Homo sapiens: one gene and its partners. The protein of the gene in region 5 purifies or fractionates together with the protein of the main gene of each other region. This does not show direct contact. Each region holds a gene or a part of one and is shown on either strand. Other genes may lie near its edges. The genes, in order: DAAM2, VAMP7, PMEPA1, ITM2B, PDGFA, KRT72 and GM2A.

Region 1 (3,975 bases), on a different chromosome or scaffold from region 5:
TACATACCATGCATAGTCTCTGTCACTTATACTTGTGTGTGTGTGTTGTTTGAAATGTAAAAATTATTAGTTCATGGGCCATACACAATAAGCTGGAGGACTGGAGTCAGCCCATGCACCCATAGTTTGCTGACCCTTGTTCTACGTTAATGTGTTTAAATTCCCCATCTATCCAAGCCATGCAGTGGATCGTGGAGAGTTGAGAACATGCCCAATACACCTGTGTTGGCTGTCCAAGAGAGTAATCACTAGCCACGTGTCATGTGGCTATTGAAATTTAAATGAAACAACCTTTAAGATTCAGTTCCTTGGTCATACTAGCCGTGTGTCAAGTACTCCATAGCCACATTTGGCTGCCATGTTGAACAGTAGAGAAATGCACTTTTTTCATTAGCTTAGAGAGTTCTGTTGGACCATGCTGCCCAAGACTCATTTCGGGATGACTGGGTTGCGAAAGGGAGCTGAGGTTTCGCTGGTGAGACCAGAGTGGGAGAGTGATGAGGAAGGTGGAGGAAGACAGGGCAAAGGCTGGCCACTGCTCACATGTTGACGATGTTCTTGACATTGAAGTTCTCCAAGGGAGCCAGGTCAGGGTCCACACCCCGCTCATCCTGGAGGACAATCTGCTGGAGGATGCGGTCCAGGAGCTGCCACTGCTGGAAGTAGCCACCGTTCCGTTTGTCTGAGGGATGACAGGTATCATATCTTTCCTGAGTCCTGAAGTCCCCCTTGGGCCCCACCCTAGAGTTGCTGCCTGGGGTCTGGCTGGTGAGGCATGCCCTTCTCCACCTATGGTAAGCTCCCAGTCTAGAAGAAGAGGCAATGCCATTGCTGATAATGGCAACTCACTGATTCAGTCATCTCTTGATTATCGGCAACTAGACTTCTACGGATGTGTCAACCACCTCCCCAACATATTTCTCTACTCCCTGAAATACTTTCTGGCTGCCTTTCTTCCTTGTTTGGACCCTGGGCATACTATGCCCAGGAAGTGCAGATTGCTTTTTACATTATCTATAAAAACCACCTGCTCCAAAATATTACATGCTGAATAATGAAGTCTCCAGGGAAGTTTTTTTTAAAAAAGATTTTAGGATTATCCACATTATTACTCTACAGAGAAAGATGAAGGGAAACTGATTGCAGGTGTGCACTGAGAGTCAAAATGGGTTAGAGAAGTGCTTAATGGAACTCGAGAAAATTTCTTGTGGAAGTGACCTTGAACTATGAAGGTAAAGGCATAGTGTGTTGTGTGTGATCTCATAGAGTCTCACTCTCATCCCCTCTAATGATAGTCATCTGGCTGGACATGGACTTCCTTTTTATGTAATAACCACAAACTCTCTTTCCTTGGTCCTTGATCCCTAGCACTTTATTGACCATCATAAAAAGCCAACAAGTTCAATCCTGACATCAAAGCAAACCACAATGCCTACAAGGTAGAATATCGAGTCTGCAAAGCCCCATTTTGGGGCAGAGTAGAAGAACCCATTCACATTGCCCATGGAACAGGAAACACAGGAATCCCTGGGAGCACAAGAAGTCAGGTTTCCCAGAGATTTCTATGCCCTTCATGAAGACCTGCTGCAATGAGCTTTGGAGAACTGATAGCTTCTTAATTCAGGTCACTGCATCTATCCTGTCCACAAGTCTACTGACACATGCATTGCAAAGTTGTATCATTTACCATCTACTTTTCACCCAGCAAAATCGTGTAAAGCCAGGTCACTAGCTCAAAGAGGCAGAACATGTTTTATCTCAACCCTTGACCCCGCAGAAACCAAAATTCTTTCTATATGTAAATATCTCGCTGAGCCTCAGGTTCACTCACTATTCAAATGGACATAATAATGTGTATTCCTTAGGTCATTCTAAGGTTCAGAGATGATGTGCTAAAGGACCTCACATCACGCCTGGCCCAGAGTTGGCACACAATAAGTCACAGTTGTCATCACTGTCACTATGATTGCTGACACCGCCAACATCAACCATTATGGTGGGCCACACTGGTTTTCAAAATATTCTCTTTTGTGAAGAGCTTAAGTACCAAGGGGTACAGTTAAAGCTCATTTCAAATTGCATTCTGGAGTGGCTATTAGCAATTATGTACAATTTATTCAATCACTGTGCACACCTGGATCTTAAGAACTTAGCCATCTGCTCCCATAGATGCTGACATTTGGTATTTGTAGGCAGAAGCAGGGGCAAGAGTGCAAGAGTGGAAGCCAACAAGGACTAGATGAAGGAGTTGATAAAACCTTAAGGAAAAAAACAACCATGTTCATTCCACATCTGTGCTACTCCCCCAAGCACAAAACTTTTTGGAACTCCCCAGCATGACTGATCTCTCCCCCGTCATGAGCTGAAAGCTGAGCTATTTAATTTTGCAATGATCAAGCTACCGTTTTTGGACTAGGATGTTGGAGTTGCTCAGGGCCAAGTCCCCAGCTCCTTCCCCAGATGACAGTGAAGACCTGACCCCAAGGAGGGAAGGAAAAGCAGGGGCCTCCGTCATGGGGCCTGCCCTCCCAAAAGCAAGTGCACAGGGAGACATGGTCAGACTCCCCAAACCAGGGAGGTCCCAAAGTCTTGTCTAAACCTGCCCCAAGTCAAGGTTCAGGCCAGTCGAGGGAAGCAGCAAGTGCAGGGTACTTACAGGGCATCTGCAGGCAGTGGTGCAGCACAGAGAGCAGGCAGGGGTAGGCCTCCGTGTACTTCAGCTTCTTGTGGATCAACTCAAACATCTGGGAAGCACTCTTGGTGTCGATGTGGACCTGGGAGAGAAGAGGGCACAGTGATCAGTGGGTAGGCAGCAGAGGAAGTCAGCAGGAGAGAGAAGACCCTGCTTCCATCCACTATGCCCTGTCTCATAGGAAAGGTTTTCTTCCCCTGCCTCTGGCCCAGGCTTAAAAAGAGAAAGACAAAAGGAACAGGGAGATAGTCAATTTTATAAACTAGAGTTTCTCAGTCTCAGCACTATTGGCATCTTGGGTCAGATAATTACTCATTGTGGGGGCTGCCCTGTGCTTTGTAGGTTGTGTATCAGCACCCCAGCCTCTCCTTAGCAGATGCCAGTGGCACCCCCTCACACAAGTCAAAATGTCCCCAGACATTGCAAATGTCCCCAGGGGGAGAGGAGAGCAAAATCATCCCTGCTTGAGAGCTACTGATCCAAACTAGGGAAGGGAGCAGGGGCATAGAGGATTCAAAGTAGCAGGTGGAATGTGGCGCAGGTCCACCACCTGGGTTCAAACCCCAGATCTACGCTTTAGTTGTGTGATGACAGGCAAGCTGCTTATCCCCTCTAACCTCTGTTTCTGTATCTATAAATCCAGGGCTTTTGTGAAAATATAATGGATGCACTCAGTGACTGTAAAGCACCACCCAAAAGTAGCTTTCTATTTGGATGGGGATTTTATAACACAATAAAGCAGAGTTGTGTGCTTTCAGGGTTGCCGAGGTTAAAATGAAAATACAATTTAGTTTGCTAAGCATGATCTGGTTAGGGATGGGGAGAGGGGACTCAGGAAGTTGCTGGAAGGCAGGGGAAAGTCAGCCCAGGAAAGGTATTTGAGACTAATCACATGCAATAACTTGCTCCCTTTCCTTTGGGGGTTTCAGTCTCCTCCTAGGCCGATGCCTTCCCGGGGGAGGCTTCCACAGCCTGCATACTACCAAGGCTCTGGAAGTGAGATGTGATGGTTCGTTTTAGGTGTCAACTTGACTGGATCAAGGGATACTCAGATAGCTGGTAAAGAATTCTTTCTGGGTATGTCTGTGAGGGTGTTTCCCAAAGAGACTGGCATTTGAATCAGAGGACTGGGTAAGGAAGATCCCACACCAGCTCCACCACAGCACAGGGCCTGGAGAAATGGCTGTGGGGCCACCTAGAACCCTACTACCATACTACGATCACTCCACCCTGTGGGCTCCTCACCATCCAATCAGCTTAGGGTCTGGAGAGAACAAAAAGGC
Region 2 (3,975 bases), on a different chromosome or scaffold from region 5:
AATATAAGGATTTTTCAAGCTGAAGTACATCTCGTTAGGTGACAACACCTTTTCGCAAAGATTGATATTGCATTTAGAGCTGTGCTCTGCATGTAATAAGTAATCAGTAAATATATTCTGAATTTAACAATTCAGCTGCACAAATCAACCTAAACTCCCAGACCAAATAATAAGTAAGAAGCTAAGCTCAGGAGCCTAAAATGTGATATTAGAAAGAGAAACCTGAGCAAGGAACCATTCAAGGCCATGACAATTACTTCCAGTATAAAATCTACAGATCTATGACTGCTCTTCTCTTTTAGATAAATCCAGCTGTCTAAGGCAGAGGACCCTCAAGCTGTGGTAGAGGAGAAGCAGGGTCAGAGTTATCTGCTTGGAGGTAACTTTGGGCTTCTGGACATGACTGGAGGATGGGGAGGAAAGGCAACTTTATCTGACCATGAACAGGGTAAAGCACCCCCCACCTGTTAGCAATAGTTTTTAAAGTTGTGGTTTAGGACCTCTTTACACACTCAAAAATTACTGAGGACTCCAAAGAGTTCTTGTTTAAGGGGGATTATAATTATCAGCATTTGCCATATTAGAAATTAAAACTTTAAAAATACATAATTAATTTAAAAATAAAAACAATAAACCCATTACATATAAACCAGAAATGTCTTTATTTAAAATAACTACATTTCTGTGAGGTCAGTTTTATAGATCTCTTCCTATTGAGAATATATAATAATTCTCAATAGGAAGGAGGGGTTTAAGTAGAGATATTTCATAGTGACTTCATAGGAAAGCCACTGCCTGGTCATGTGTTTCACTATTAAAAGACATATGTAGCTCATTTCAGAGTGTTAATCATTGAGAAATAATTCTAGTACCTAATTTCTTAGAGATTGAAAAATAAAGCCATACACTAAAAGGACAAAAACTTACAATTGATACGATGATGATGATAATAGTGAGCTTGAGGTTCTTCATACACATGGCTCGAGCAAGATTTCTGCTGGTAGTTTTGAAGGTGACAGACTAGAAAAGAGGCGAGAATTGTTTAACCCCTGGCACTGACTACATGAATGATTTGCAGTAACAACCTGAGAACATTTTACTTCCATTAATTCCATTTAAGTCCAATGACCTCTCTTTACAAGTAGAGACTGGCCATTCATACTCAATAGTTGCCAAAAGCAAGACTCTGCCAGGCCTATCATAAGCAGTATGAGCCCAATGAAAACGCTTCCCTCTTTTTTCTTCTCCACTGCAGCAATGCACATGATGTTGAGCACCAGAAGTGGTTCTTCCCGCTAGTGGAAAAGAATTTTCCTCTCTATACTTCCAATAAGAAAGGCTCTTTTAAAGCCAGCTGACTGCAAGCACATTCGCCTATTCTGCCCCGTATAATTCCGGGGCTTTGAGCCATAAAAACCTGTTTGATTTCTGTAGGAAGATATGTATTTACTTTTGTGAGGGCCAAAACCCATAGAACTTCATTCCTTCTGCTATCCATTTTCTTTTGCATCATCAATTTCTCAGTATCTACTGAACAATTCCCACCAGGACACAAGGAGTTTAAAACAAAATGGCAAACAACCAACCAACAAAACTCCCTAATAATCCAGCAATCCACTCTGGTATGGTCCCACAGATGTATGCAAATTCACCAAAAGACATATAAAAAAATGTTTTGGACAGCACTACTTTTCATACCTTAAACTGGAAACCACCCAAATGCCCATCAACTGTGCAATGCATAAATTACAGGAGAGTCATAACATGGAATACAATACAGTAATGACAATTCACAATCTACTACTACATTTATACAATTTACCACAGATGAATCTCACAAACATCATTTTGAGCAATAGAAACTTGACATAAACAGAATACCTGCTATATTTTATTATTTATCTTGAGACAGGGTCTTGCTCTGTCGCCCAAGCTGGAGTGCAGTGGCACAATTACGACTCACTGCAGCTTTGACCTCCTGGGCTCAAACGATCCTCCCACCTCAGCCTCCTGAGTAGCTGGGACTATAGGTGTGTGCCACCACTCTCGGCCCCTGCTATGTTTTATTAATCTATGTGGAGAAATCAGGACAGTGGCCACCTTTGGAGAAGAGTAGTGACTAAAAGAAGGGAGAAGGGAGCTTCTGGGGTACTGTTCGTGCTCTAGTTCTTAATCTGGGTGTTGGTTCTACATGGTATGTTTACTTTGTGAAAACACAACAAGTTGTATGCTTACAGTTGATGCACTTTATGTATATTATACTTCACATATTGGTTTTAAAAAATCCACTCCCTTAACCATAGATTCATCTCCAACCACATACTCCACAAAGTCTCTGCAGTAGAACAACTGACAGGGGCACCAGTCTTTGGGTTTCACTTCATGAAGACTGCACAGGATGCCACCTGGAGGCACATACCAAAACTGATTACATCTAGAGCTAAATATATATGTTGAATAGAATATATGCATTGACTAGAACTTTTGAGAAGAAACAGCAGTTAAAGTGAGGAGACAAAAAAAGCAATGGGGACAAACAGTCCTTAATGGAACAAAGTTAATATGGGAAACAAGATAGAATAACAGTAATAAAAAAATTTCTAATAAGTATCCTCAGATACAAGACATAATTGAACTAATTTTAAACAAAGTCATCAGAGGACATAAAAAATTAGATAACATGACAACATTCCAAAAACTATATTTTAATAAAATGGCATAATTTTTTAAAAGCAGAACATAAATGAGCAAAAGCAGCTTCTGCAGTAACAATTCAAAAAATTTGTTCTGAAAACAGCAAAATGTCTAGGTTGTAAATCATGAAAGAAGATGTAAGATACACGGAAAACTGATCAAGCAAATCCAGGATCAATTTATACGATCAACAGATATTTAACATGTGCTTATTATGTGCCTGGTACTGATTTACACACCTATTAGCAGTCACAGGAGAGAATACAGCCAAAAGAGAAGGATCAATAATCAAGGGACTAATTGAAGAAAATATCCCCCAAATAAGACAGACTTGAATCTTCAGACTAAAAGGACCTACCCACCATGTGGCAAGAATATTGAAAAAAGGAAAATGTTACACTTTTAGTAACATTTCAGACCTCCAAGCTTTTGTTTCTACTCTAATTTTATTTTTTTCTGCCTTGAAGTATAATTGGCAAATAAAAATGGTATATATTCAAGGTATACAATGTGATATTCTGATAAATGTACACATTGTGAAATTATTACCACAATCAAGCTAAGTAAAATATCCATCACCTCACATAGTTACTTTTTTGGGTATGTGGTGAGAATGCTTAAGATCTATTCTTATAGCATATTTCAAATATTCAATACATTATTATTAACTATAGTTGCCATGCTGTATGTCCGGTATCCAGAACTTATTCATCTTACAACTGTAAGTTCATACACTTTGACCAACATCTCTCCAGGTCTCCCACCCACTGTCAACCACTGTTTTACTCTCTGCTTTTATGAACTGAACATTTTTTTTAGATTCCATATATAAGTGAAATCATACAGTATTTATCTATCTGTGTCTAGTATATTTCACTTAATATAATGTCTTCTAGTTTCATCCACATTTTAGAATTTTTTTTTCTATTCTGTGAAAAATGCCATTGGAATTTCAATAGGGATTGTGTTGAATCTGTGTATTGCTTCAGGCAGTATGAACATTTTAATAATATTGATTCTTCCAATCCATAAACATAAGGTATCTTTCCATTGATTTGTGTCTTCTTGAATTTCTTTCATCAATGTTTTATAATTTTCAGTGTGCACATTATTACATCCTTGGTTAAATTTATTCCTAACTATTGTACTCTTTTTGATGCTATCATAAATGGGATTTTTAAAAAATTTCCTTTGATTCCTGTTCCAAGATGGCCAAATAGGAACAGCTCCAGTCTACAGCCCCCAGCGTGAGCAACGCACAAGACGGATGATTTCTGCATT
Region 3 (3,975 bases), on a different chromosome or scaffold from region 5:
ACCTGCAGCCTGGGTAGGAACGGCCAGAGGGTGGTAATTTCCCATATGGCCACTAGGAGGCTCTGTGGCCCCTCAAAACTGTCCCGTCAGGACCGCTCCTACCCCTTAAGGAGGTCTTAACTGCCTCGTCTCCTGATTTAGCGAATGGCTCTGATATTCTTCAAGTTGCAAAGCCAGATCCACAGGATCATTCCTGACAGCTCCTCTCCCCACCACCCTTGTTCCACCCACCCTTGATCCCCTCTCACTTCTCCTTCTATTAGACAGTTCTATCCACCTCTCTCCCCAGCATCTGTGCCTAGTGGACAGCAAAGTCCTATGGAACCAGGGCCTCCATGTGCAGACAGTCCATCTGCAGCCTGCAAAAATGCAGATTCTGTAGCAGGAGGGCTGGCGAGCCTGCGTGTCTCACCATCTCCCAGAGGCTGCGAGTGCCGCTGGTCTTTGAGGTCCTTGAGGGGTCTCCCAGGGTCTCCTCCACTCTTGCCCTTCCCCAGGGCCCTTCCTCCTCACAGAAGTGGGAACATCTCCCTCATGCCCCCCACCCCACACCCTGCCACTCCTCTGCTTAAACCGTCTGGGCCCCCCGCTGCCTCCAGGAGAGAAAGTTCCAACCCCTTACCGAGGCCCATACCCCCTAGATGTCCACGGCCGTAGTATAGCTGTTTCCTTTAACGGGTTTTCCTATCTGTATAGCGGGCTGATGACAGCGCCTGCAATGCACCATACAGTGTGTTCTGCAAGGTGCCCAGTGAACACAGACTCTCACGTCTTGCCTTTGGATCTGAGCCCATCCTGGGTCTGGACCAATGGCCCCTCTTTCCTCCCTTTCCTGAAGAACTTTGACTGGCCCCTCAAGCCTCTGCCCAGGTGTGCTAACCCCAGAGCTCTCCGTTAGCCCCCCAGGCGGGTCAGGCACCTCCTCCCATCTCCTCCAGTCCCCTCCTGCACCACAGCCTTTGTCCCTCTGCCCCCGGTGGCCTATTCAGGGGTCTCACTCGCCCTGCAGGAGCTGCTACCGTTTCCCCAGTGCCAGGCGCCGGCGTGCTATGCAGTCAGGGAGTGCTCAGGTTGCTACTTAAGTGCGGAAGTTGCTGGGTGACCCGTGCAAGTCATCTTTGTGGAATTAGGTTCCAAAGTGGCTTGAGAAGTCGGGGGAGGTGGGCCCAGCTTCAGAATTGTCTGGAACCTTCCCCAGCCTCTGGCTATGTCTGCCAGTCACCCCAGGTGGAGGACAAGGACAGGTTCCAATCCTACAGCCACTGCTGACGAGCCCCCTGCTCCCAGCAGCCTCCAACCACTCCCAGACTCCCAGGGCTCGGGGTGGACTCCTCTTCTTTGAAGTGGGCGCACCCAGTCCACCTGCGCCTTCCCCATTTAGATGCTTCTAGACCAAGGGTCTGAAAACTGTTTCCATAAAGAGCCAGAGAGTAAAATATTTTCTGGTTTGTGGGCCGGCGGGTCTCTGTCATACCACTGAACCCTGCTGCTACAGCCAAGCGCAGCTATGGGCAAAACGCACTCGAAAACACTTCATTCACACTCAGAAAAGACCTCATTGACAAAACCAGGCAGCCGCAGTGAGCTGACGCTCAGGCAGCTCCTCCCAGACCCCTCCAGAGTCTTAACACCACGAGGCCAGAACGTAGCTGCCCATTCTTCCCCTGGAGTCCCCAGGAACATCCAAGGGGACGGGATGGCCTTCTATCAAACTTCGAGGACTCAGAGATGTTTCTAAAGAATAAAGAGATGTTCCTAAAAAATTCGGTACCTCCCATGTCCTCAGGAGATACTGAATTCCCCCACAGCCCAGCACAAGGGGCCTGGGGGAATTCGGTATCTCCTGAGGCCATGGGAGTGGACGCTAGGTCTTTGGCTCCCGCTGCTGGCAGATTGTCGCACATTGGCCTGGCCACAGTCTTGTCCCTGCCCCTGGGAAATGGGCCCTTGGTGGGCTGGGTTCTCTCGGGAGCAGGAGACCCACACTGAGGACTGATTGGGGGATAAAGAGGACAAAGGGTCACCCCATCCAAGGCCTGAGTTCCTAGTCTGAGCAGGCCTTGGGCACAAAGACTGGGATTGCCTTTCTGGGTAAACCTGAAGTCTGCGCCACTCCGTGGCTGGGCGGTCACTGCAGTGACGTTCTGCATCATGTCCCGAATACCCTCGGAGCAGCGCCAGGGTGGAAGTGCCATCCCTGGTCGAGGGGCTTGCCTGCACTGGAGCCTCACCCTCAGAGGGCAGATCCTTGCCCAGTGTCACACAACAAGGAGGTGACAAGGCCGAGAAAAGACCTCAGAGCTCAGGGTCTTACCTGAGATGGTGAGGCAGGTGGGTGAGGCACGAGCTCTTGTCTCCATACAGGCAAGAGGGGACCCCCAGGGTCACCCTGAAAAGGGGCCATGGTCGGATAGCCATGCCAGGGGCAGAGCATGGATGGGCTGGGGGGATGTAGACTGGGCCCGGGACAGATAAGAGCTGTATGTGGATCTCTATGGAAGGCCGCGGGGCCCAGGGACTCCTGTCTGGCAGGGGGTCCCCAGGGGAGCTGCCACATTCTGCTTTAGGCCTAGTGAGGCTCCACGTTTACCCAGCCAGGCATCCCGGGCGGCTGTGCAGGCGGCTGGGTAGACAGTGGGAGGAGACTTTCTATTGGCCGAAGGTGTGACGGAATCCTACCCCTTCCTGGCAGCAGGATCCCAGGTGCCGTCTCCTGCTCCACAACAGTGAAGCCCCTGCAGTCGGCCTCTGGGTACGGTACACTCTCCACTAACTGCATCCTCCCCATGACCACGGGCCGCACAGGCCTAGCTTCAACCCACTGTGGAGATGCACACACTGAGGCTCCGAGGGGCAAGGTGAGTCCAGCCTGGAGTTAGTGCCCCTCCAGGGCTGGTGCCTTCTGGAATGTCCAGGCACCGTCACTCTCCCCAGCACTTGAGGGAGGACGGAATAGGCTGTGGGCTCTTCACACCGGCAGTGACAAGCAGTGTGGCCTCCGGCAAATGTTCCACCTCTCTCATCCCCAGTTTCTCCTCTGGAAAGTGGGGTGAACCCCTGAAGTCCCTGATGGCATCCCTGGGCAGACGTAACCAGTGCTTGTTGCTGGAGTGGTAGCAACAGCAAATAAACACGTCGGGGCTTGAGAGCAGCAGGTCTGCAGCACGCCCTCCGGACAGCGTGCTGGGACGCACAGTGGGCCCCGGGTCTGTGGGCCAGGCATTCCCATCAGAGGTCCCAGGGCTGATGCTCCTTGCCCTGGCAACCTGGTGACGCACTGAGGCTGGGGCCTGATGCAAGCAGAGGTGTCCAGACCTGCCAGGGACAGGCCTTCCGGCTAGGGACTGTGGCCAACAGGCTTCTCAGCTGACTTGGCTCAGCCCAGGGACTCTGGGCGCCACCACCAACCCCAGGCGTCCCCAGAAGTGGGGAGGCCACACTCAGTGCTGCCTGTTCTGTGAGTCCTCCCCACACCTGGTGAGCCCCGGCTCAGAGACGTGCCGCAGCCCCAGGGCTGGCCACGTGCCACCTCCTCCCCACAGTTCCCAGCCTGCTCTTTAAACAGCCGCTTCCTGCCCCACGTGGTTGAGTTACACATCCTGGGTGCAGAGATGGAAGCCATTAAGAGATTAACTCTGTGCCGCCCTTTGGTCCACCTGCTGAAGGATACCGAACAGCCGGGCTTCAGGCGGCCGACATGGAGCCGGGAGTTCACCGTCAGAGGCGGGCAAGTTCCCACCGACCCAGATCTGCCCTGTTTGCCCCTGACTTTGTGGAGATTCGAAAGGGAAATTCTTGGGGTTTCCAGAACACCCACCAATGCTCACAACTCTGAGAGATCAACACCCAGGACTGTAATGGAGAGCGGGGTCCCTCCTGCAGGGCTCTGTCCTCCTCACACTCCCGCGCCCACTTCACCTGGTCCTGCACAGCACGGCCTCAAGAGCAGCTCGCCCCAACTTCCTGGCCACGGCC
Region 4 (3,975 bases), on a different chromosome or scaffold from region 5:
CTACAGAAAAACAGCAGGCAGGCAGTATTTGAAGATATAGGCTATAATTTGCCAGTCCTGCGTTCCACTTTAAAGGAGATTATAAAATAGTGGCCCATGCCTTCAGTGTTTTGGGCTAAAATTGTTGTATAAATTAAAATAGTACTGATTTTTAGCTTGCCTTGGAAAATTGGAGGATCCAGCAACACTGGACTCATGTTTTAAAAATGAAAACCAAGAATATTCTTTTGTTTTTTGAGACAGAGTCTTGCTGTGTCACCCAGGCTGGAATGCAATGGCGCAATCTCAGCTCACTGCAGCCTCCATCTCCCAGATTCAAGCGATTCTCCTGTTTCAGCCTCCCAAAAAGCTGGAATCACAGGCGCATGCCACCACGCCTGGCTAATTTTTGTTTTAGTAGAGACAGAATTTTGCTATGTTGGCCAGGCTTATCTCGAACTCCTGACCTCAGGTGATCCACCAGCCTCAGTATCCCAAAGTGCTGGGATTACAGGCGGTGGCTTGCGCCTGGCAGGAAAACCAAGAATATTCTTACTTGTTTCATATGCAAAAAGTCCAGCTTCAACAATTCATCTGCTTCAGCCCAGGAGACACTGAATTTGCCTTCTCTGCTTAAGATGCCTAGCACGGCCCTAGGTAAAACTGATAGACAGGAAATTTTATGTCCCAGTATTAAAGGGAGGAAAAAATGAATTGGATAAAGTTATATAAAATGAAAAACTGAAAACTGATAATGCAAAGCTAAATAGACTAGCTCTCAAAAATCATTTTCCCCAGCATAAAAATGGGTCTGCTTTTGGATACTGCAGAGATTCAAGTGATTTAATTAACAATGCATCTTTTAAAATTTTTATATAAAATAATTTAAAACATTATAATCATATATAAGCAGAGAAAATAGTTAAGACTTAAGCTTTATCCTTAACTCATTCTGAAAACAAACAACTTTTAAAAATAATTTGCATCTTGACTGCTCTGCCTATGCAGTACCATTCTTTTACTCCTTTACTTTCTTAATAAACTTGCTTTCACTAAAAAAAAATAATAATTTGAGCCTTAAAGTTAATCATTCAAATAAACACAAAAATCCACCAAACTTGTTTTTTAAAGTATGAAATTCAACTATGCCAAAAACGGTTTATGCAAATATTTCAAAATTTCAAAGTACAAAATATCCACCACCATACTTAGTATCACTTTCCCAAATAAACGTCCAGGATATTTAACTCAGAAGTGGTATTATATATAAGCTGTGAAAATTTTATTTCTCTTTTGTCGTACTTATGTTAGTTCAACATCATAAAATTATTGCTGGTAACTTATCAGTACTGAAAGATAAAACATTAAGTGAAAAATCAGAATATATCTCTACCATAAAAACAAGGGTAATTTCCTCATCGCTACAACTCAAGATTCAAACTTTTCTGTTTAAGAATAAAAAGTCTACGTTCATTCTTACCTGATTTTTCCCCAAGTACAATTATAGAAATACTGCAAAAAGTTTTTTCCTCTAATAAAAGAGCTTAAAGAATGCACAATAATTTAAAATAATCTTGTTCATTCAATTGTTGATAACACTTATAAAATGAGGTTGTATTGTAGATCTCCTTAAAGCTATTAAAAATATGTGTTGTAAGTACTAATTAAAAGGGATAATCACAATTAAGTGGAAATTTTTCAAAAATGATGTCCTTAGTGTTATAATTTCCAATTTTCAACTTTCAGCTGTCTACTTTGGAAAAGACTTTCATTGTGAAGCACAGCTCCAGTGTTAATATTTTGTATATCATTTAGGCAAAAATCACCTCATTCAGAAATTCAGAATTGTCAAATCCTTTAACAGGTTTCAGTAACGGTCTAAAGTCCTTAATTTCTTTTCCTTTAGTCTTTAAGCTCTAATAAAATGCCACGTTTGCCAAAAAATTTAAGAGGATGATTTTACTGGTAACCCAAAAAGATTTTTTTTTCTGAGTCTTCCTTTACTGACACTGACATACAAAGCAGTACAAGAAGCTTTAGTTAAATCTAGGAATTCAGGAAGTAGTATTTCCTTTTGGAAAAAGAATGTGGGTTTTGAATAGACACGCCAGACATTTAAGTTATGGTATGATAAAACTAAGAGAAATAAAATCTCCCCCAATGACTACTTAGTACATGTTTCTATGTACATTTACCCACAAGTCAAGATTTGGAAATGCATAATAAACACCTTGTAAGTCAAATTCTAAATTAATTTAAATAGGCCTGTAACATAAACGTATTTGAGATATTTCTGCTTAAAAAATACTTCCAGTCACATAAACCTTTTATATGTCAGAGTTGAATTCCATGAGGTCACTCAGGCTTATTATGCCAAGTATATTATACTCATTTCTGTCTAGTTGGGAAGACTACAATCCTGTGCAATATGCAACCTTGCACACCCAATATGCTACAGCAGTGTCCTGTCAGGGATGTGTACACAGGAGGTCCTGCCAAGGCATTTGGGATGCACAGACGCAATTCATTTATTTCCCAGCACTAAACCCTCAATTCAGATATTAATATCCTCATGGAGAACCAAAATGTAATGTAAAAGTTTCACTGGCCAATATCTGCAAACACGGAATTACATAACTAGGTAATAAGATGCACTTTGGTTAAAGAGAACCAAGCTCTCAATCCCTTGAGAGCATTATATCAACATTATAGTAAATGGCCAGCCATGCATTTTATGTCCCTTCTCCTCACTCCCCAAAAAACACACAAACAAAACCACCACCACAAACGAAAAGCTTAATTATCAAAACCTTCAGTCTTGATTGTGTGAATAGGGAAAACCAGAAAGGGTAAAGAACCAGGGTCTAAACAGCCATTTGTCATGGGTAACTCAAAACTTTTACTGGGTGAGTCGGCCTTCACTTTCTCTCTTGCACTCACCCTGCCACTATTTTCTCTCCTATATCAGCACTTTACTTTTCTCTCTCCTTTTAAAGAATATCTACAAAGTGGGGTAGAGAGAAAGCAACACTATTTGTCAGCAAAACAACTTGCAGGGATACATATGAAGCAAGCTTAAGCTATTCTGTGGCCTGATACTGGAAAAGGGGTTTCATAAGCAGGCATTGCAACAAAGAGGTGCTGACAACTTCACTGTTCACTGTGAGGTAAACAGAAGTGACAATGTGCTTTATTACATAATACCTCTACCCATCTCCTTTCTCTTTGACCCACTGCTACTTGATATGAGGGAAGAATGTAACATGTTAAACACCAAAAGGAAGAAAGGGAATAGTCTGGTTAGAGTGAGGAGGTAGTTGCTATTTTTCACAATTAAAACAATTTAATGTCTGCCAAATATAATTATGTAATCCTAGCATCTTCATAGATTTTTGAAACTGGAAGAATCCTTACAGGCCATCTGGTCCTACCCTCTCATCTTACAGACAGAAAACCTAAAAATTTAAGCCCAAGATCAAGTAGTTATGTAATGACAAAACTGGGACTTCTGATACAGTACATCAAGTATTTTGTTATCTGCAAATATAAAACAATTTCCCAAGGTTCAAAGTATTGCCACAAAAATATATGAATTGTTGCCTATAGCATAAAACATGTATATAATTTCAAATTCACTTCTGCTACCCAAAATACATCCCATCTTTGCTGTCTCTATAGCTCTAAGAGCTTTATGCCTACTAGGAGAGGAGGAAGGTGAAAACAATTAAGGGGAAAATGCAGGAAAAGAATAAACAGCAAGCTAGTTGAGATAAAACTATCAATAGAAATGGCTGTTAGGATTAATAGCTGCTGAAAAGATAAGACTGAAAAATGGGGTAATAGAACTGTTTCTGGAGAGTTCTCACCCTGCAGAAGAAAAAAATAGAAAGACAGGAGCAATGTAAAAGTACTGGAATGCATGTTATATAAGCCAGCTGATTAGAGTGATCAGAATTCTTGTGGCATAAGGTAACAGAATCTGCATTTTAAAACCAG
Region 5 (3,975 bases):
CAGGCACTTGCCACCACGCCTGGCTAATTTTTGTATTTCTTGTAGAGATGGGGTCCTGCCATGTTACCCAGGCTGGTCTTGAACTCCTAGGCTCAGCGATCCTCCAGCCTCAGCCTTCCACGGTGGCTGGGACTGCAGGTGTGAGCCACCTCGCCTGGCCCGATTAGTTTCTAGGGTAGAGGCTTCATGAATGGAATTAGTGCCCTTCGAAAGCAGCCTAGGGAGCATGTTCATCCCCCGCCCCTCACACTGATGGCAGAGCGAGAAGGTGTCATCTATGAACCCAGAAAACACGGCTCCAGCGGAGACACAGTCTGCCGGCGCCCTGATCTTGGACTTCCAGCCTCCAGAACTTTGAGAAATACATTTGTTGCTAATCAGCTCCTAGTGGATGGAATTCTGCTAAAGCAGCCTGAAGAAGGCAGGCACCACCCCCAACTTAAAGAAAGAGGGGCTCACCCTGGGATTCTATGGAAGGAAGTCTGCTGTCTGGCCTCGAGCCCACCCCAAGCACTCCTTCTCCTTCTCCTGGGCTGCTTTAGGGGGGAAGCCGGGGGGGCCCTCCAAAGGTCAGGCACTTCAAAAGGCAATGCAGGCTCTGAATATCCACCCCCTACTCCTCCTGCCATGCACCTCGGCCCCCACTGAAGAGCCCGCACAGGACCCTCCAGGGCCCGGGGACGCCAGACAGCTTCCGGCTAAGCAGCTCGACACCTCGCAAGGCCCAAAACGGCCCCCGCACTGTGGTCTAGGGCGTGGAAAGGAGGCCAGGCTCGTCGCCAGAGCAGCAGAGCAGAAGCCCCGGCCGGCCCTGCCTTTCCCGCACCCCCAGGTGCTCCTTCTCCTCCCTGGGCCTCAGTGTACCTGCCAGGGAGATGGGAGCGCAGCCGTGCACCCCCACCAGCCACACCAGGGGCACCTTGTGGCCTCCCAGGAGGGACCCTGGCAACCCAGTAGGGGCGACCCTCAGGCCTGCGTGGGGCAGGGCTCACCTGGATGCTGCAGTGTTGGATGCGTGAGGGACCCTGGCTGCTTGGTAGGGGCGGCCCCGGGCTCGGGTGGGGAGGGGAGGGGAGGGGCAGGGCTCACCTTGACGCTGCGGTGGTGGACGCGGGAGGGACCCTGGCTGCTAGGTAGGGGCGGCCCTTGGGCTCGGGTGGGGAGGGGAGGGGAGGGGAGGGGAGAGGAGGGGAGGGGCAGGGCTCACCTTGACGCTGTGGTGGTGGATGCAGGAGGGACCCTGGCTGCTTGGTAGGGGCGGCCCCGGGCTTGGGTGGGGAGGGGAGGGGAGGGGAGAGGAGGGGAGGGGAGAGGAGAGGAGGGGAGGGGAGAGGAGAGGAGGGGAGGGGAGGGGAGGGGAGGGGAGGGGAGGGCTCACCTTGACGCTGCGGTGGTGGACGCGGGAGGGCTGGCACTTGACACTGCTCGTGTTGCAGCAGCCGGTGCAGCGTTTCACCTCCACGCACGGGGGCCAGATCAGGAAGTTGGCGGACGTGGGGTCGACCTGACTCCGAGGAATCTCGTAAATGACCGTCCTGGTCTTGCAGACAGCGGGGACAGCTTCCTCTGCAACGGCGGGGGCACAGTGAGCGGGGACCGGCCTCTGCGACCACGGCCCCACCCCAGGGCTGAGGCGGCTCCAGCTGGGCCTGGGGGGCAACCAGGGTAAGCCACAGGCCAGGATTCCTCCCAGGCAGCAGAGGCTGAGCTGGGAGCAGAGGCTTAGGGGCTGGGTGGGCAGGAGCACCACACATCCAGAGGAGCCCAGCCCGGTGCCTGCAGGCTGGAGGGACCTGGACAGGTGGGGCCAGTGGCTCGGAGGGGAGGGGAACTTAGTCCAGGTGGGGCCAGTGGCTGGGGGTGGGGAGAGGGGAACTTAGTCCAGGTGGGGCCAGAGACTGGGGGTGGGGAGAGGGGAACCTAGTCCAGGTGGGGCCAGAGACTGGGGGTGGCAGGGGCAGAGGGGAACCTAGTCCAGGTGGGGCCAGTGGCTGGGGGAGGAGGGGGCCTTAACAGTGAATCCTACAGCACTTGCTGCATGCTCTAGCCTTCAAAAGTGGTCTGAAGGGTGCAAAATGCAGACCCCACAGCAAATGTCACCTGGGGAGGGCCTGCTTGCATCAGCTGGGACTAGCCAGCCACACATGACACTTTAAGGTGGAAGATACAAAATCCATCTTCATGGAGGAAACCACAGCTCAGAGAGGGGGGTCCACCTGCTCAGGGCCCCAGAGCCATGAGCAGCACCAGGGCTCAAACCCATCAGGTGGGACCCCCGAGGACGCGGGACTTGGGTAGAAAGCAGGGACTGGCCCCTGAACTCCCCAAACCTGCTAGTTCCTCCTCAGGGGGCTGGAGGGCCATGGGGCTGTCCTGTAAGAAGGGACAAAATATCCCCCAAATGGACGCGGGGGTGGAGCCCTGGAGCCAGGTGTGAGTGGGGCGGGGCACACGGGTGTGGTGAGGGTGTCGGGGGGCAGCCGCCGGACACAGCACGCGCGTCCCCACCAGTTCAGCAGCCGGCGCAGGAGCACGATGCCCACACTGCGAATTGGAAATTAGGCGCGACCACGTTTCCGGCAAGGCTCCTGGGGACAGGCCCCGACAAGACAGGGCGCTTAAGGAATTTATGATGGCTCTTCTCTCCTGGAAGCTCTCTTGGCCCAGACCAGGACTCCAGGAGGAGCAGGCGGGCTGGGGCAGGAGACACCCTCGAAGGAGGGAGGCCTCGGGAGAGGCCAGAGCCAGAGGCACCAGGGCCAGGCCTATTTTAGGGAGGAGGGAACGGGTGGCTTGCCTGAGGCCACTGCGCTGGGAGAGCGGGCAGCTCCTCCCCACCCGGCCCTGCCCTGCCCATCGCGGCCTCCTGGACTCACCCTGACCCGGCCCTGCCCTGCCCATCGCGGCCTCCTGGACTCACCGATGCTTCTCTTCCTCCGAATGGGCAGGGGCCGCTTCTCGGGCACATGCTTAGTGGCATGGACCCCGTGAGCTCTCAGGCTGGTGTCCAAAGAATCCTCACTCCCTGCAGGCGGAAGGAGAACACCGTGAATGCCCCAGGCCCGTGCGCTGTGCCCTGGGCCTGTCCAGCCGCACTTCCCACAGACCAGCTTTGGGAGCCACTGGGGAACAGGCACCTGGCGGCACAGCCCCTCACAGCTCCCGCCATTAGGGGCCCTCCAGGAGAACCTCGATTCCCACCAGGGCTTTCCAGAGATGCAGGGCATGAAACACTGGAAACCGCAGAAAACGCCCCGTTAGCACAGAGGTCCCCACATTCAGGGGCCCGTGACGAAGCGCAGGGCCCTTCGGGGAAGAGGTTGCAGGTGGTCTCCCCTACGGTGCCTCCTCCAAGGTAGCCCAGGTGAGGGCTGCCCCGGGGCAGGAGGGGCCTGAGGCCGCCCAGCTCCGTGCACCTCCCCGAGGGGCACAGGGCTAAGCCAGGCCCCACCTCTGTCTGGGGGCTGGAGCGAGGGAGAAGCAGAGGCCGCTGAGATTTCTGCAGGTGCCTGTACGTCTCCCTCCCTCCCCCTCACTAAAGCACTCCTGGAAGAAGTGGCCTAACCTCTGAGGGGCACTGGAAGCCGCCAGACTGGGCTGCGGGCCAGACCCCACTCATTCCTGAAATGAGTCTACTCTAGGGCCAGCGGCCATGAGGAGAGGCAGGAGGGCACGTGGCCTCTCGTGGAGGCTACACGGAGGAGTTCCCGCAGCCTGACAGAGGGAGGCGGCCTGCGGAGAGGGGTTGAGAGAAGCTGGCATCTGCGAGCCGTGTTTACAGCCAGGCGGCCAGGTGCAGGTGGGGCAGTGGCCCAGAGCCAAGACCAGCACTGACCGGGGAGCAGAACTGAGAACCTATCCCCGCCACCCCACCCAGCTGCACACACCACCCCTTCACAGGCGCTGACGGCTACAGCAGACAGGCTGGGGGAGTCTCAGGTCTCTCCAAATCCCGCAGTAGGGAGAGGACCCACA
Region 6 (4,541 bases), on a different chromosome or scaffold from region 5:
ACTTCCAAAATATCAGGTCACACTGAGCCTTGATTTATTACTGTCTCATATTCAGCTCAACTTGGAGGAGGACACAACCTCTGGTTCCATCTCATTCTCAATCATCCTCAAACATTCTCAATTATTCTCTTTAAAGCCAGGATTCAGCAGCACAGCCATGATTCAACATGGAATAAGTTTTTTAAATTCTTTTTTTTAGATTTAAAATTTGCCCTGGAATTGGTGGGGTGTCTTACATTCTGGGAACTGCCATGGAAAACTTCACTCAGGAGGAACTACAAAGGCATTTGGGTTGTCCATCTGGTTTTGATACAACTCTCTTTCCCCCATTCCTTCATTTTCAGTGCTAGAAATTGAGCACACATTTCCTCGACAGTTTGGAGAACCGGTGTAGGTAGATCTATTCTTTTCCTAGTTCCATTCTGTCTGGATGTTCCTCCCTCCCCCGGTATCAGCAAGGATCTCAGAAGCAAAAATGCCATCTCCAAACGAAAACCTCATTTGAAATCAGATCCTCCAGGGCCATATTCCCTGCCACTCACTCACCTCTTCTTGTAGTCCTCCACCAAATCCTGCATGTTCCTCAGCTCCGAATCCAGCCTCACCCCGTCCCCAGACAGCATCTCCAGCTGCTTCTGCAGGTTGCTGATGTAGCCCTCATAAATGGGCTCCAGGTTCTTCCTGCAGTTGTTCAAGTCCAGCTGCTGTAGGAGGTTCCACTTGGTCTCTAGCACCTGATTCTGCTGCTCCAGGAACCGCACCTGGAACCCAAAGGCAGTCATCGCCCAGAGTCCCCATGTTGTTGCCTCTCAAGAGTGGGGAAAGGGCCCCAAAAACCAGAGGCAGCCATCCTGGGGGACTGGGGGTAGGAGAAAACAAGGCTTATCCCGGGGTGGATTCAGCCGAGGGACATGCTCACCTGGATCTCCAAGACAAGAAATAGGACCCGGTCTATATGGAATCAGGAAGAGGGCTTAAGCAATGGTACCATCTGCCTCTGCCTCAGTGAGTTTTCATGAGACAGAGGTAGCTTCTCATGCTATAAATGCTGGTGTTTTCTGAGTAAAGAGAAATGGGGAGCAGGGGAGAAACAGGGACTGGGGAGTGACATTGGAAAGCACACTGGCATTTAGAGCGTTCCTCCTGTTGTGTAGCCTAAATTGCACTTGGTTTGTTCATTTCTTTGTTGTTCACAGCAAGTTACCACATCTTCACAAAGTTCCTTCATACTTGACCAGGGTGCACATTTTTAGACTCAATAACTCCAAGCCCTCTGCCACACACCAGCATTCCTCTTCTCACCTATCTTTCAGCTTGAGGGGCAGAAGGAAACATGCTAGGGAACAACAGACATAAAAGAGCAAGAGAATGCTCTGGCCTCTGGAATAGCTGCTGTGTTTCTTCCATGCAGACCTGTGCCCTCCCGCCACCTCAATTCCTCTTCCCTAGCATAGTGGTGACACTCGGTCCACCACCAACTGTCCTGTCCAAGGTGAGCTCATTTCTTAGCCTCCCATGTCTTAATATCCTCATCTGCAAGGCAGAACAACAACAGAATCATGGGTTGTGATTGTAAATGAGAATCACTTGGGACGGCACCATAAATGTCAGCTATTGTTATCAGGCTGTCCCCTTATCACTCACCGTCTAGACCTTCCATCCAGGTGGAGACAAGAGAAGTCCATTCCCTGTCTCCTCTCCACTCACTGGGGTCATTGCCTCAGAAGCTCCAGAGACAACTTCCCTATTACCCCAATTTCTGGATGCCCCACCCTCAGCACACACCTGTAACTTTACATGCACTCTTTCCAAGTGCCTCCTCAGCCTCACCCTTCAGTTTTCTGGCCCTTTTCTCTCACCTCCTCTATCATCTTCCTGGCTACACACTTACCCCACTCCTCAAGCACCAAGCACCATGTCCTGCAACGTCTCTTGGCCTCTGTTCCTAATGCCCTGCCCTGAATGTGGGTCCCATCTCCTCTTCTGATATTGGGAGCTCTCAAAGTGCCCATTCCTTGGACATCCTGACCCCTCCCTTCTCACAGTCTTGTCTCATGCAAGAAAGAAATGAAGGTCCTTGATACGTTTTGGCTGTGTCCCCACCCAAATCTCAACTTGAATTAAGTCTCCCAGAATTCCCACGTGTTGTGGGAGGGACCCAGGGGGGAGGTAAATGAATCATAGGGGCCGGTCTTTCTCCTGCTATTCTCCTAATAGTGAATAAGTATCACGAGATCTGATGCGTTTATCAGGGGTTTCCGTTTTTGCTTCTGCCTCATTTTTCTCTGGCCGCCGCCATATAAGACGTGACTTTGGCCTCCCGTTATGATTCTGAGACCTCCCCAGCCATGGAGAACTGTAAGTCCAATGAAACCTCTTTTTTTTTTTCCCAGTCTCGGGTATGTCTTTATCAGCAGCATGAAAATGGGCTAATACATCCTGTTTATTGGAAGTATGTGCCAGGCACTGTTCTGAGCACTTCGTAAACATCCCAATTAAGCCTCATCGCAACCCACTGGAGTAAGACCCATTATTGTGCCCATTTTACAAATGGAAAAGGGAGGCTCGGAGAGGTTATGACCCGCCCACGCTCCCACACAGCTCGCCAGTGGCAGAGCCAGCACCACTGTGCACATGCGCCCAACGCAGGGACAGGCCAATGCCCGAGGACTCACCTTGTCGATGAAGGAGGCGAACTTGTTGTTTAGCGCCTTGATCTGCTCCCGCTCCTGGGCGCGCACCCTCTGGATCTCGGGGTCCATCTCCACGTTGAGCGGGGCCAGGAGGCTCTTGTTGACGGTGACCTGAGGGATGCCCCCGGGTGGGCACACGGAGGGACACTTGGGCCCCAGCCCGGCGCTGCCGAAGGCGGTGCCCACGAAGCCGCCCAGGCGGCCGCCGCCCCGCCGTGCAGCAGCGCTGAGCGCCAGGCTTCGGCTGCCCCCAAGGCAGGAGAGGCTCTTGCTGCCAAAGGAGGCCGAGCCCTTGACCCGGGCCCGGAATGAGGCGGAGCTGCTGCCGATCCCGCCAGAGAGGACCGCGGAGCAACCGCTGAAGCCCAGGCGCTCCCCGCGGGGGAAATGGGTCAGTTGGCGGCTCATGGCTCGCAAGTACCGGTGCTGGCCGCGCGGGAGGCAGAAGGGGCGCAAACAGCCGCTGCGTTCTCGGCCCAGCTCGCCCCTTAAATAGCCTGGCTGGCTGGAGTCAGCCTAATTTGTATGTCGACAACACCTTTTAGATCCCTTGAGGCCTCTTGGGTTCTTCATGTAGGAAATTACCATGCACTCACCGAGATTTTTGTCTGTTCCACCGTGAACTCCCCATGAATCCCTGTAAAGTGACCCAGAACCCAGCATTTACTTGGCTCACCTCCTGCATTATCATGGCTTAGCGACCTTATCTCCACCTGCTGGCCTCCAATTACTGGGGTTATCACTCCCAAGATCACCCCTGGAAACTTCCAGTGGGGCTGACCCTCTGGGTGTGTGTCTGGGGAGACGGAGGTGTGTGAAGCAGAAGTCCAGGCTGCTTCTGCTTCAGAAGGCCATGAATAGAGTCAAGACTATCGCAGAAAATCATCCTTAGCCTGTCCTCCTCCTGCCTCCCAGGCTTCTGGATGAGGACAGCTCTGTCCCTTGTGCAAGAAGGAAGTTCAGAAGGAGGAGATTTTGGCCCCGTCTGCAGAGACCTCTCAGTCTGTTGGAGAAGGCAGGACACAGAGACCTCTGGTCACAAGTGTTGAGGGTTGACTTTGGACCAGAGCGAAAAGATTTCTCCACTAAGCATTTCTGGACTAAGAATGGGGACCATGCTATCTGGGAGGGAGGGAAGAAGGCCTGGGGAGGTGGTACAGGAAGACTCAGGCATGGTTTAGCAGATGGTGTTTCCTAAGGCTTTCGGTTGTTTTCATTTTTGTTTTCTTTTAATAGCAGAAGAGGCTTATTTATCCCATCCAGCAAACCTCTGCTCAGGTCATTTGCCACCCAGTCATTTCTGATTCAGCATCAAAATGTGATCAGTTATTAGGAAGAGGTCAAGACTCTTCAGATCTAAAACCAAGAACTAGATTCTAGAACTTCATTCCCTTTAAGCTACAGAGGCTCCTTCTTCCACCTAACCCGATTTCCTTTTCTCAAACTTAAGCTGCCTTCAAGTCTCCTCCTCTCTTAGCAACAGCTCTCCTGTTCCTCTGGCATGCAGGTGGGATTATTTCATTGCTCTTATTTCTTAAGCTGCCAGAGTCCTGGGTGTGTGTTCCATTTCCTCTATCAGATTGACAGGGCCCCCTGGATTCACCCTTCCCTCCTCTGCTCCCCCAGTGCTCAGCCCAGGCCTTGGCCAAAGGGACATTTAGGATGATTGTGAAACAGCAGAGTGCTTAGGGCAAGGCTTGTTACTGCACCTTCAGTGATACCCTGAAGGCTGGGTTCCCCTTGGGGACCTCATGGGTTGGTTAAATGGTACCTGGGGGTAATTGGCTGACATAGCCTCCACTGGGCCAATGACAGGACATAATAACAGCCGAAGCGTTTACTCCACGG
Region 7 (3,975 bases), on a different chromosome or scaffold from region 5:
TTTATTTGTGTGCTCCCTCTGCTGATCTGGAGTGTGGGCTCTCCTGGTAGGCCGTCCGCCATGCTCCCTCTGCTGCCATCACCATGCAGCCACTGGTGTTTCCAGGGAGGGGGCTATGCAGCTGACTTGGAAACAAGAAGCTGGCAAACCCGCTCTTCTGCCCTCAGCCTGCTTTTCCTGGCTTCTTCACAAACCATTAAGATGGGTTTTACTCCCTATTCTCCTTTTCCATTGCTTTATTACCTTTCATAAATTTGGGCCTACATAATCTCCTCTGTCTTTACTGTCACTTGTGCTTAGGAAAAATTAGCCTCAGATCCCCTCTGCTCCTTCTTTTTCCCCAATTTCTTTTTTTTTTTTTTTTTTTTTGAGATGGAGTTTCACTCTGTTGCCTAGACTGGAGTGTAGTCGCGCGATCATGGCTCATTGCAACCTCTGCCTCCCGGTTTCAAGGGATTCTCCTGCGTCAGCCTCCAGAGTAGCTGGGATTATAGGCGTGCACTTTTTTAGTAGAGATGGGGTTTTGTCACATTGGCCAGGCTGGTCTCAAACTCCTGACCTCAGGTGATCTGCCCACCTTGGCCTCCCAAAGTGCTGGGATTACAGGCGTGAGCCACCAGGCCCGGCTCCCAATATTTCTCGTATATATATATATATTTATTTATTTATTTGGTTCAGTTCTTTTTTCAGGATATGTGCATATCAACTATTAGATGAAAGCTCTTCTGACCACTTGCTAGGGAGAAGAGCCGATGAGGGACAAAGGGTCTCAGGAAAGGTTGCAACTTGACCCAGGTCACAAAGCTAGTTGTTAGCATGGACAAGGCTGGTATGTTTATCTTGGGGTTTGGTTCCTGAGCTTTTACTGGCAGGGAGGTAGACTTGGTGCTTGGTGTATTTGCAGGGGAGGGGAGAGGAGTGCTGCAGATTCAGTTCCAGAACTCTCCCCTTGCCCAGCAGACCTGCTTATGAGAGCTGCCCAGAACTAAGCTCTGGATGAGCCTGGAGCACTCTTGGGGTCCATGGGGCTTCAACCCCTTGTTACACTGAGGCCCAGAGGAGAGTGACTGCCCAAACCCAAGAAAGCAACTGCCATCCTCTCTTTCTCTGATCTTGCTGTAGTGAAATTTCTTTAATCAAAAGTCAAATCTGGGACCTGGCTGGATTTGACTCCAGCTGCAATTTTTAAAAGTTAAATGTCCCGGATTCCATGGCCGTGGGTAAGACTGGGGCCTGCTCAGGAGCTCCCTTTTCTCTTTTGACTTGCTCCATGGGATCTGGCATAGTTAATAACTCCCAATGCCCAGCCCTCCCTCAAGTTCCAGCCTGTGGGACCCTGGTTTTCCCATCCTCAAGAACTGTAAATTGTCACTGTATTTGTCATATGTACTTATTCCAGCCTTTCAGGCCTGGTAACTTGGCTCCCCCAGCACCCAAAGTCATATACATGCCTGGGCTCATTACTCCACCCTGCTTCCTTTTCTGAGTCATAGTAGCAAATAGATTGAGAATAAGAAATGAGCCATCATTTGTAATTTCCAAATGGTAGGTGTGGCTGCTGCCTTAGAACCCTCTGTTGACTTCAGTTCAGTACACTTCTTGTGTCGTGCTGGTCCTGTGCTGGGGGCAGGAGTAGAGATGAGGGAGCCACTACCTCTTCTGGTAGATGCAGCCCTACAGGTTCCAGCCTGGTGGGAGGAGCCCTGGCAGGACTTGTCCCCCTACTGGCCTCCTCCACTGTGTGTTCTCACTCAGGGCATAACTGGCTCAAACATTTTCATTAGGGTATTGGCGACACAAGGAGAGAGTATTGGCTAAGGAAAAAGGCAGGGCAGAAGTCATGGAGGAGGAAGCTTTTGATTTCAGGCACTGTGCAAAGTGCTGGTATTTCCCTCTCAATGGGACCTGTGAGAGAGGTAGGCACTCTAAAATATCCCACTTTTGAAGATGAGGCGAGGCTGGATACAGTGCTTCATGCCTGTAATCCCAGGACCTTGGGAGGCCGAGGCGGGTGGATCATTTGAAGTCAGGAGTTTGAGACCAGCCTGACCAACATGGTGAAACCCCATCTCTACTAAAAATACAAAAACATTAGCCAGGCGTGGTAGCTCATGCCTGTAATCTCAGCTACTCAGGAGGCTAAGACAGGAGAATCGCTTGAACGCAGGAAGCAGAGTTTGTAGTGAGCCAAAATCACACCACTATACTCCAGCCTAGGTGACAGAGTGAGACTCTGTCTCAAAAAAAAAAAAAGAAGGTGAGGGAATGGCCACTGAGAGAGATTAAGTAACTCACCCAAGGGCACAATAAAACTAGGAAGTGGCAGAACTAGCATTCCAACCTAGGCCCTCTGACTTTTCCTAGGCAGCGGGGTAGAAGCAGGTTTGATGAGAGAGAGGAGGGCTGAGAGGGTGCTGTGTGGCCAGTGGTGGAGATAATGGGTATGTCTTAGGAGCAGATGAGGCCAGTGAGAGGAGCAATTAGAATTTGTCCACTCAGACCACAGGATGTGCTAACTTCTTTGTTCTTTCTGGGCCTGGAGGAAGGCAGCTAATATCTCGACATCTGGGGCATCTGGAAGACTTGAGTCCGTGGCCTGGGAACCAGCCTGAGCCCAGCAGCCTCTTAGGACATAAGTGCCCATCCAGGATTTAATCTCTTAGAAACAGAGCCCCAAATAAAGTGAGCCTAGAGGCTGGGATTCCTAGAATGCTAGAATGTCAGAGCTGAAAGGGATCCTAAAAATGTGATTTCCTGCCATAACACGCACAAGGAATCAGATATTTGAGAAAGCTAATTTCCTGGTGCTCTTTCCTGAGAGTTTTCCCTTGATACCTTTGGTGGGTGATGGACATGGTTCTAAAGCCAACTCATTTGGCACTAGAGGCAACTAACACATGGTGACTGTTCAGCGCGTGCCCGGCACAACTGGGATGTCCACCATGAAATTTGGGCCACTTCCTCCTGGTCAGCTTCAGCCTCCAAAACGGGAGCAAAGTCATGACAGTATGGAGGTGTGAAGTGTGTTCTAGAGCTTCTCACCCAGCCCTACTCCAGGCACAAGAGTCTTTTGTAGCTTTCCCGGCTGAGTCAGGGAGCCCGTACTCCTTGAGGCAGCTCCATCTGTTGTAACCTAGCTATGATTTTATACCAGTCTCAAGGTGATCTTTCTATACATTCCTATTGTTCTTAATTCTGTCTTCTGTGGCTGTACGGAGAAAATGTGACCCAAGAGCAGCCAGTTGGGTTCATTTTGGTAACCAGCTCATCAGTTGGTAGTAACTACCTGAAGTCCTATGCAGAAAAGGATTTTGGGGCCACGACTGGGCTCAGAAGGAAAGCCCAGGAAACAATGCCACAGTTAACCAATTAGCAGTTAGATGACAAGTGCATTTCAATGCAAGTGTTAGAGCCAATCAATGGGTAGTGACTACCTAAAGAATTCTAAGACTATGGACTGAGCATGATGGCTCACGCCTGTAATCCCAGCACTTTGGGAGGTGGAGGTGGAAGGATTGCTTGAGGCCAGGAGTTCCAGACCAGCCTGGGCAACAAAGTGAGACCCCATCTCTACAAAAAATACAAAATTAGCTGGGTGTGGTGGCATGTGCCTGTCTGTGTTTCCCACCTACATGGGAGGCTGAGGCAGGAGGATCGTCTGAGCCCAGGAGTTTGAGGCTGCAGTGAGTGCAGTGAGCCATGATACAAAAAAAAAAAAAAAGAATTCTAAGTCTATGTATAGTTCAGTGTAGGGGGAAAATTCACATTTGATTATTAATGTCTGCCATGGGCACAATAATACACTATACTCACACATGGGCCACAATGTTGCCATTCCTAGAACAGACTATCTCTAAGATCTCATCCAGTTAAAAATTCTATGATTAAAATATATTGCTGCTTTTTTGAAGACAGAAGAGCTGGTATGTTTGCCCTGGAATTTACACTTATAACCTTTTTCAAACCTTTGTTTTA

What was found.
Region 1: the proteins of PDGFA (region 5) and DAAM2 purify together in Homo sapiens (affinity purification with mass spectrometry, with the first as the bait; one study listed by BioGRID). This does not show direct contact.
Region 2: the proteins of PDGFA (region 5) and VAMP7 purify together in Homo sapiens (affinity purification with mass spectrometry, with the first as the bait; one study listed by BioGRID). This does not show direct contact.
Region 3: the proteins of PDGFA (region 5) and PMEPA1 purify together in Homo sapiens (affinity purification with mass spectrometry, with the first as the bait; one study listed by BioGRID). This does not show direct contact.
Region 4: the proteins of PDGFA (region 5) and ITM2B purify together in Homo sapiens (affinity purification with mass spectrometry, with the first as the bait; one study listed by BioGRID). This does not show direct contact.
Region 6: the proteins of PDGFA (region 5) and KRT72 purify together in Homo sapiens (affinity purification with mass spectrometry, with the first as the bait; one study listed by BioGRID). This does not show direct contact.
Region 7: the proteins of PDGFA (region 5) and GM2A purify together in Homo sapiens (affinity purification with mass spectrometry, with the first as the bait; one study listed by BioGRID). This does not show direct contact.

The regions. Positions count from the first base shown.
Region 1 is NC_000006.12:39,872,037-39,876,011, reverse strand, and holds part of DAAM2 (disheveled-associated activator of morphogenesis 2), read right to left. Parts: intron 2,775-3,975; coding exon 2,657-2,774; intron 683-2,656; coding exon 544-682; intron 1-543. UniProt on the Homo sapiens protein: Key regulator of the Wnt signaling pathway, which is required for various processes during development, such as dorsal patterning, determination of left/right symmetry or myelination in the central nervous system.
Region 2 is NC_000023.11:155,936,746-155,940,720, reverse strand, and holds part of VAMP7 (vesicle-associated membrane protein 7), read right to left. Parts: intron 1,021-3,975; coding exon 928-1,020; intron 1-927. UniProt on the Homo sapiens protein: Involved in the targeting and/or fusion of transport vesicles to their target membrane during transport of proteins from the early endosome to the lysosome. Required for heterotypic fusion of late endosomes with lysosomes and homotypic lysosomal fusion.
Region 3 is NC_000020.11:57,654,404-57,658,378, forward strand, and holds part of PMEPA1 (protein TMEPAI), read right to left. Parts: intron 1-3,975. UniProt on the Homo sapiens protein: Functions as a negative regulator of TGF-beta signaling and thereby probably plays a role in cell proliferation, differentiation, apoptosis, motility, extracellular matrix production and immunosuppression.
Region 4 is NC_000013.11:48,235,893-48,239,867, reverse strand, and holds part of ITM2B (integral membrane protein 2B), read right to left. Parts: intron 1-3,975. UniProt on the Homo sapiens protein: Plays a regulatory role in the processing of the amyloid-beta A4 precursor protein (APP) and acts as an inhibitor of the amyloid-beta peptide aggregation and fibrils deposition. Plays a role in the induction of neurite outgrowth.
Region 5 is NC_000007.14:509,431-513,405, forward strand, and holds part of PDGFA (platelet-derived growth factor subunit A isoform 2 preproprotein), read right to left. Parts: intron 3,026-3,975; coding exon 2,921-3,025; intron 1,567-2,920; coding exon 1,379-1,566; intron 1-1,378.
Region 6 is NC_000012.12:52,598,352-52,602,892, forward strand, and holds the start of KRT72 (keratin, type II cytoskeletal 72), read right to left. Parts: upstream 3,113-4,541; 5' UTR 3,102-3,112; coding exon 2,676-3,101; intron 952-2,675; coding exon of another isoform or gene 920-951; intron 762-919; coding exon 547-761; intron 1-546. UniProt on the Homo sapiens protein: Has a role in hair formation. Specific component of keratin intermediate filaments in the inner root sheath (IRS) of the hair follicle.
Region 7 is NC_000005.10:151,262,742-151,266,716, forward strand, and holds part of GM2A (ganglioside GM2 activator isoform 1 precursor), read left to right. Parts: intron 1-3,975.